Regions from separate parts of the Homo sapiens genome. Here regions 1 and 3 are each linked to region 2. The links come from fine-mapping of genetic effects on gene expression. A gene starts in region 2. Each other region holds a variant in brackets. All regions are shown on one strand. Distances are between the middles of the regions.

Evidence for each region.
Region 1: its variant is fine-mapped to the expression of TELO2 in putamen (GTEx, PIP 0.97).
Region 3: its variant is fine-mapped to the expression of TELO2 in subcutaneous fat (GTEx, PIP above 0.99).

What each region holds. Positions count from the first base shown.
Region 1 is chr16:1,388,365-1,391,116 of GRCh38, forward strand. It overlaps UNKL (unk like zinc finger), which reads right to left. Exons shown (of 15, transcript NM_001372107.1): 9 at 2,268-2,330. Among named protein-coding and RNA genes, the nearest start is that of UNKL-AS1, 19 kb to the right of the region's middle. The variant G/T (reference allele first, on the strand shown) is at 1,327.
Region 2 is chr16:1,492,123-1,494,853 of GRCh38, forward strand. TELO2 (telomere maintenance 2) reads left to right here and starts at 1,238. Exons shown (of 21, transcript NM_016111.4): 1 at 1,238-1,483; 2 at 2,124-2,494. The coding sequence starts at 2,160. RefSeq lists enhancers at 896-945, 1,043-1,943 and silencers at 1,156-1,245, 1,416-1,465, 1,476-1,675.
Region 3 is chr16:928,628-931,379 of GRCh38, forward strand. All of the region lies in intron 3 of LMF1 (lipase maturation factor 1), which reads right to left. All of the region lies in intron 1 of LMF1-AS1 (LMF1 antisense RNA 1), which reads left to right. Among named protein-coding and RNA genes, the nearest start is that of LMF1-AS1, 9.0 kb to the left of the region's middle. RefSeq lists enhancers at 168-751, 752-1,333. The variant G/A (reference allele first, on the strand shown) is at 1,461.

The sequences.
Region 1 (2,752 bases), 100 kb before region 2:
TGCAGCACCCTCAGAAGCCAAGGCCGCCTCCTTCCCGCCTGTCTGCAGGAGGGGACTCCACCCCGGAGGCCTTCCCCAGCCTACTGGAGGCCATAAACCAACAGGGACCAGAGAGGAAGCCTCAGCCCTGAGTGACCCCCCAGACCCCATGCTGACCCTGCCCGGGAGCTGGCCAGGGTGATGCGCACACTGTGACTTCAGCCCAAACGATCACCTGAAAATCATCAACATCCATGTCACTCCTTGTACCCCAAGGCACAATGGCCACAGATGACGGGCCTGGTGTGGGAGTCCATCCACATGAGGGATGGGCACAGTGAGAGGGGTCAGACGAGAGCTCCGTGAGGATCCCGCACCTTCACTAACACCGGCACCGTTCTCCCCGTGGGGACGCCACACCTCCGCTACCACCAGCACCGTTCACACCATGAGGACACCGCACCTCCGCTAACACCAGCACCGTTCGCCCCGTGGGGACAGCACACCCCAAGCTACCACCAGCACTGCCTGCCTGGTTTTTCTTCTCTGTATTATAGTGAAATATAATATAAAATTTGCTACAGTGGCCATGGTTTGGTGTAGTACGTGGCATGAATTCCATCCACACCGCTGTGCAGCCATCACCGCGTCCACCTCCAGAACTCCTCATCTTCCAGCCGGAAGCTCTGACCCCGTGAACACTTGCCCCCTCCCCCGGCCCCGGCCCCGGCCCCCACCATGCCACCTGCTGTCTGTGAATGTGACTCCACTAGAGACCTCCTGTGAGTGGAATCACGCAGGTTTTGCCTTTCGGTAACTGGCTCATTTCAGTCAGCACAGTGTCTTTGTTATGGACCAAACGTGTCCCCCCCAAATTCCTACGTGGAAGCCTTGACCCCCGGTGTGACTAAATTTGGAGATAGGGCCTGTGAGGAGTAATTAAGGTGAAATGAGTTCTTACTCCAGGCGTGGAGGCTCACACCTGTAATCCCAACACTTTGGGAGGTCAAAGCAGGAGGATTGCTTGAGCCTAGGAGTTCGAGAACAGGCTGGGCAACCCCATTTCTAAAAAAATACAAAAATTAGCCAAGCCTGGTGGTGTATGCCTGGGGTCCCAGCAACTCAGAAGGCTGAAGTGGGAGGACTGCTTCAAGCCTGGGAGTCCCGGGCTGCAGTGAGCTGGGACTTGGCCACTGCACTACACCTGGGTGACACAGCCAGACCCTGCCTCAAAAAATTTAAGAATCTGTAAAAACACAACAGCAACAATGAAATGAGGTGTGGGGGCAGGGCCCTACGCAGCCACTGTCCTCAGGAAGAGACCCCAGGGATGCCCACGCACAGAGG[G/T]GTGACCCCAGAGGACACGGAGGAGGCAGCATCTGCACCCGGGGGGCCTCAGGAGCCAGCTCTGGACAGCTCAAGCTCGGACTCAGCCCCCAGAACTGAGAGAGTCAAGTGCTGCTGCTTGGGGATTGGTTTTGGTTTGGTTTGAGACAGGGCCTCACTCTGTCGCCCAGGCTGGAGTGCTTGGCTCACTGCAACCTCCACCTCCTGGGCTCCAGCAATTCTCTTGCCTCAGCCTCCCAAAGTACTGGAACCACAGGTGTGAGCTACTGTGCCCAACTAAAACTACCTCATTCATTCATTCATTCATTCATTCAGAGACAGAGTCTCACAGTGTCACCCAGGATGCAGTGCAGTGGCACGATCTCGGCTCACTGCAATCTCCACCTCCCGGCTTCAAGCAATTCTCCTGCCTCAGCTTCCCGAGTAGCTGGGACTACAGGCACGTGCCACCATGCCTGGCTAATATTTTGTATTTTTAGTACAGATGGGGTTTCACCATGTTGGCCAGGCTGGTCCCGGACTCCTGACCTCGTGATCCGCCCACCTTGGCCTCTCAAAGTGCTGAGATTACAGGTGTGAGCCACCGTGCCCGGCAAGTTCTGCTGTTGGAACGGCCCCATCTGCATCCTTCCCTCGCAGCCCAAAAAAGTAACACAGATGGGCTCCAAAGGGCCCCTCTTATTTCCCCGAGCACGATGTTGTGGCTTTGTTTCCAAGGTATAACACGAACGTTTCAAACAGACAAACACGGGGGTACCAGGAAAGAGCTAATTCTACAACAAGCGGACGTCAACCAGATGGCTTTGCGAGCCGAGAGTGGGCGGGACCAAGGATGCATGAGCGCTGCCCTAACGCGATGCCACGGGTCAGGCACGAGGGCGGGAAGCCTCAGCCCTAACGCGACATCAGGCACGAGGGTGGGAAACCTTGGGGGCCTGTACCTGCTTGCTGTCTTGCTCGCTGCCCCTAGGGCCACCCTCGGCCGGCGAGTCTCTCCGCTTGGCCTGCAACATAAAAAACAGTCATATGTGGAAAAAGCAGGGAGGAAATGTAAATTAAAAACATACAATTCAGGCTGGGCACAGTGGCAGCACTTTGGGAGGCTGAGGCGGGCGGATCATCTGAGCTCAGGAGTTCGAGACCAGCCTGGCCAACATGGTGAAAACCTGTCTCTACTAAAAACACAAAAAATAGCCAGGCGTGGTGGCACATGCCTGTAGTTTCAGCTCCTCGAGAGGCTGAGGCAAGAAAATCGCTTGAACCCAGGAGGTGGAGGTTGCAGTGAGCCGAGATGGCACCATTGCACTCCAGCCTGGGCAACAAGAGTGAAACTCCGTCTCAAAAAATAGAATAAAAAATTTAAAAAAGGATATCGCTTGAACCCAGGAGGTGGAGGCTGCAGTGAGCCAAGGTCATACCACCGCAC
Region 2 (2,731 bases):
ACCACTGTGCCCGGCCACTGGCTCTTATTTTCTTACCCTACCGGTTTTTTATTTTGATTCCTTTTTTTTTTTTGAAACAGGGTCTTGCTCTGTTGTCCAGGCTGGAGTGCAGTGGCAGTGAACATGGCTCACTGCAGCCTCAACCTCCCGGGCTCAAGCCATCCTCCCACCTCAGCCTCCTGAGTAGCTGGGATCACAGGCTCATGACACCGTGCCTGGCTAATTTTTAAATTTTTTGTAGAGACAGGGTCTCACTATTTTTCCCATTCTTGAACTTCTGGGTGCAAACGATTCTCCCACCTCAGCTTCCCAGTGCTGGAATTACCGGCGTGAGCCACCGGGCCCGGCCTCTGCCAGTTTTTCTGCTCGAGGCCTGTCACCTGGCATATTTCGTATGTACTTTATCTGTTCCCCCGATAGGTGAGCAGGAACTTTGCATCATTTGTTGCTCAGAAGGCTTGGTGCACCAAGCAGGCATTTAATCAATGTTTGTTGAATGGATAACTGTTCCCCAGCTTTTCCCACATCCATCACTGCTGAAATGGCGCCTCTTTAGGTGTCTTCCTGGATTGCCCCCTCCACAAAGATGAAGCCCCCCACACTCCGCTGCGGTGTACAGAAGGCACTGCATGTTGTAAATGTTCAGTGTCCGGCTGTCCAGCCTGGCGGCCACAGCCAAAGGTAGTACCGAGCCCTTGAGATGGGGCTAGTGCTGCAAGGGAACTGGACTTATTTAACTTCAGTTAATTTACAGAGCCACATGCGTCTAGCGCTTACCCTACTGGTCGCAGTTTTTATTCCACGACCCGGCCTCATTTACGGAGCTGCAATTGTTCAGATCTGACATGATCTCAACTGCTCTTTTACTTCCTTGTGTACCGTGCGTTTCCCTTACTGGCCTCTGACCCTTGAAAGCAGAGCCTTACATCCGGGGAAGACGAGCCAGGCCTGTCTTGGTAAACATCTGCCTTAGAGCGAACGCTCGGCGTTCTGGAGAGAATGTGGGACCCGAGGCGGAGGGAAGAGACGGCTGACATCACTCCAGGGTAGGGACGACCGAGATGGGAGAAACTAAGGCGAGAACCCACCACCCGGGCGCAGCGAACCCAGCTCGCAGCCACGTGGGGAAGCGCGGCCCTGCCCTCAGGCCCCGCCCCACTCACGCGTCAGGCCCCGCCCACCCCACCGCCCCCCGCTCCCGCGTCCAGGCTCCGCCCCGTCCCCGCGCAGCGCAGGCGCAGATGCGCCCTCCCGCCTGGCGTCCTCCGCAGATTCGCGCTGAGAGGCCCGCGGAGACCCGCCCCAGAGGCTCAAGAAAACCCGCGGGAGCCTCGCCCGGACCCAGGAACTCGTGCTCGGGGCCAACCGGCTGGGCCGCGATCGCGTTTCGTCCGGGGCCGCGGCGGCCGTGGGGAATCGGCTGCAGCGAATCGGTGGCGCGCGGCGCCTGAGCGCGCTGCAGTCACCCGGGAGCCGGGTCCAGGTCGGGTTGGGGGTCGGGGATCGGGGATCGGGGGTCCGGTTGGGTCGGGTTGGGCTCCAGGTCTGGTTGGGTCGGGTCCAGGTCGGGTAGGAGTCCGGTCGGGGTCCGGGTACAGGTCGGGGTCCGGGCCTGGATCGGGGGCGGGTCCGCGTGCGGCTCCTCTAGCCCCGAACCCGTGTTCCCCGTAAGCTGTTGGTTTCTAAGGGGCGGAGGAATGGCGACTGGAGCCACCTCTCACCGCTCAGGGAGCCGGGAGGGCCGGCAGCTCCCGCGGGCCGAGTTTCCCGCCTTGGGTGCGAGGACGCGTGGGGCCGCGCTGTGCCCGGGGAACACTCACCAGCATCTCTAGCCTCCACCTCCCTCTCGCGCCAGTGGCACTCCCGGTTGAGACAACTGAGAATGTTCCCTGGGCACAGTGGCCCGGGTTGAGAAGCCCTGCAGTGGCTGGTAGCGTTGGGGTCCGAGCGGAGGAGCGAACTCTGGGTGGAAACCGGCAGGCACTGGAGGGGAAGGAGGCGGGACAGGGTTGGGTGGGACCAGGGTTGAGGGGTGTGGGGTCTCGGGGCGCTCACCGAGGGGCTTCCTGAGCTTGTGTGGATTATTTCCGTGCCCCAAGCTGAGCCCTGTGTCCATGTCACAGGTCGTCTTCCCGTGACGCCCAGATCTGTCCTGCAGGATGGAGCCAGCACCCTCAGAGGTTCGACTCGCCGTCCGGGAAGCCATTCATGCCCTCTCGTCTTCGGAGGATGGCGGCCACATCTTCTGCACCCTGGAGTCCCTGAAGCGGTATCTCGGTGAGATGGAGCCTCCAGCGCTCCCGAGGGAGAAGGAGGAGTTTGCCTCGGCCCACTTCTCGCCTGTCCTCAGATGTCTTGCCAGCAGGCTGAGCCCAGCCTGGCTGGAGCTGCTGCCCCATGGCCGCCTGGAGGAGCTGTGGGCCAGCTTCTTCCTGGAGGGCCCGGCGGACCAAGCCTTCCTGGTGTTGATGGAGACCATCGAGGGTGCTGCGGGGTGAGTGGGCTGGGCCCATCCTGGGGTTGCCGGTAGCCTCAGAAGTGATGAGAGTGGCTTGAAGGACTGGACCAAGAGCCTCTCTAGTCCCTGTGAGGGGCTAGAGAGAGAGCCTGCTCCTGGCTGAACCCCTGAACAGAAGAAGCGGTCTGTGTCTGTCTCCTTTGCGACGGGAGGCACCTGCTGTGTCTCACAAAGTCCCCCACTTGCTCCCCGTCCGGCTGTGTCAGAGAGGGA
Region 3 (2,752 bases), 560 kb before region 2:
CCCTCCCCACAGGCAGTCACCATCAACAGCCCGGTTCCCTGCACGAGCCCATCCCCACGCCCCCACGAGCCCCTCCCCACATCCCCACGGGCCCACCCCACACCCCCACGGGCCCATCCCCACGCCCCCACGGGCCCATCCCTACACCCCCATGGGGGCCCAGTGGTGCAAGATGGGGGTAGGATCGCCTGGAGGTAGACACCCGTACACACCCAAGTCCATCAGGCTAAAATCACAAAGAAATTACAAAACGATTTTGGGGGCCTAAAACACTCCAAAGGCCTTGGGAACCTGTTGGTCTTCCTCTGGGACTCTATCTGGGCACAAAGACCTGGCAAAGTGGCCCAGGAGCTGAGCCAGAGGAAGCCCTGCCCTGGCGCCTGTGCACTCTGCCCCCTACTCACACAAGGCTGCCCCTGGTTCCAGAACCCCTCACCACGAGTGTCTCCTTCCCCTGGTCACATCTCAGCGGCCAGTGGGGTCACAATGCTGTCCCATCCCGCGCCTGAAAAGCCCAGCCATCCCTCCCAGCTGCCCCAGGCCTGGGAGGGGCCAGAAAGCGTCTCCAGAAGCACTGGGGACCGGCCCTGGTCTCAGTCCCAGAACAACGGCTGTGGCCTTTGCTGTTTCAACCTCACCAAACTCTGCAGACGGGAGCCCCTTCCCAGAGCCCGCTCTCCATACAGAACCAGGTGCTAGGCATGGCGCCCCATGGGGGACGGGGACCACGCTGGAGGACAGGGTCCACACTCAGGGGATGGGGCCAAACTGGGGGTCAGGCCCACACTTGGGGGACGGTGCATTGTCGGGAGGGTGCCGGCAAAGGCGGTCTGGTCCTGGAGGGAAAGCAGGCAGCCCCACGGAGCCCTGCCACCCGCTGCTGCGGGTCCTCTCGGGTTCCCGCATCCTTTCCAATGCGCAAGGGCGGCTGGAAGCTCGAGACACTCCCAGATCCAGGCTCACTGAATATCAAAAGGTGCACTCGCTGCAGGGCGGCAGGAAGCGGCCACATTCGGGGCTGCGGAATTCATTACCGTCAGGCTCCTTCTTTGAAGTGAATGTTACCAAACTCAGCAGCCCTCAAAGCTCAGCTCTATCTAAACTCCAGCAGAAACACAGACGGCAGAATGGGGTTTAACAAATATTGTGGTTTTCCTGCGTCCTGGAAAGCGCGGCCCTGACGAACGCAGCTTCATCCTGCTCAGCAGTCACGTCCGTCTGTGAACGGGGGCGCACGGCCCTGGGACACAGAGCCCAGGACAGCAGTGGTCGTGTACGTGTGAACGGGGGCACAGGGCCCTGGGACACAGAGCCCAGGACAGCAGCAGTCGCCTCTGTCTGAACGGGGGCGCAGGACCCTGGGACACAGAGCCCAGGACAGCAGTGGTCGCGTCCGTGTGAACGGGGGCACAGGGCCCTGGGACAGAGCCCAGGACAGCAGTGGTCACGTCCGTCTGAAC[G/A]GGGGCGCAGGACCCTGGGACACAGAGCCCAGGACAGCAGTGGTGGCGTCCGTCTGAACGGGGGCGCAGGACCCTGGGACACAGAGCCCAGGACAGCAGCGGTCGTGTTCGTCTGAACAGGGGTGCAGGGCCCTGGGACACAGAGCCCAGGACAGCAGCAGTCGCGTCCGTCTGAACAGGGGCGCAGGACCCTGGGACACAGAGCCCAGGACAGCAGCAGGCGAGCTCGCTGGAGGGGCTCTTACAACAGTAGAGAGATGTGAACGGAGACCCAAAGACCAGCCTGGGCAGCACAGTGGGACCCCATCTCCACAAAAAGTTAAAAATTAGCTGGCCATGACAGTGCGCCTGTAGTCCCAGCTAATCGGGAGGCTGAGGCGGGAGGATCGCCTGAGCCCGGGAGGTCAAGGAGCTGAGATTGCACCACTGCACTCCAGCCTGGGTGACAGAGCAAGACTCTGCCTTGAAAAGAAAAGAAACGTAAACATTCTGTGGATGGTGTGGTCATCCTGAGAAAAAGGAAGACACTAGCGACGGGGGCTGTGCGGACTTCCCGGCCAGCGGCCGTTTCACTAAGAGCAGCCGTGTGTATTTTCAGGCGGGTCCCGCTCACACCCACAGCATTGTGAGAGCATGTCCCGGGGAGCCCACGCCGAGCCACGAGCCCTCAGAAGGCAGGGTTTGCTGCTGGTGAAATGTTAGGATCTTTGACTGGCAGCCTCTGCAGACTGCTGGGCTGAGAATGGTCTGGGGCCGGGCGCAATGGCTCATGCCTGTAATCCCAGCACTTTGGGAGGCTGAGGTGGGCGGGTTACCTGAGGTCAGGAGTTGGAGACCAGGCTGGCCAACACTGTGAAATCCCATCTCTACTAAAAATACAAAAATTAGCCGGGCGTGGTGGCGGGCGCCTGTAATCCCAGCTACTCGGGAGGCTGAGGCAGGAGAATCACTTGAACCCAGGAGGTGGAGCTTGCAGTGAGCCAAGATCGCACCACTGCTCTCCAGCCTGGGCGACAGAGCGAGACTCCATCTCAAAAAAAAAAAAGGTCTGGGACCGCCCAGTGGGGAAGCCACAGCTACATGCGGCCACGGAGCACATGAGGTGCAGCCAACGCAACCAAGGACTGGAGCTTTTTATTTCATTTAGTTTTAATTAATTTTAGAAACACATGTGCCCAGTGGCCGGGCTGGGTGGGGGCCCTGGAAGCCTGGCCCACCTAGAGCCGGCTGGCTGCTGCCTCGGGGCACGCACTGCCTGAGGATGCTGCTTTGCGGGCCGCAGGGTCCCAGTG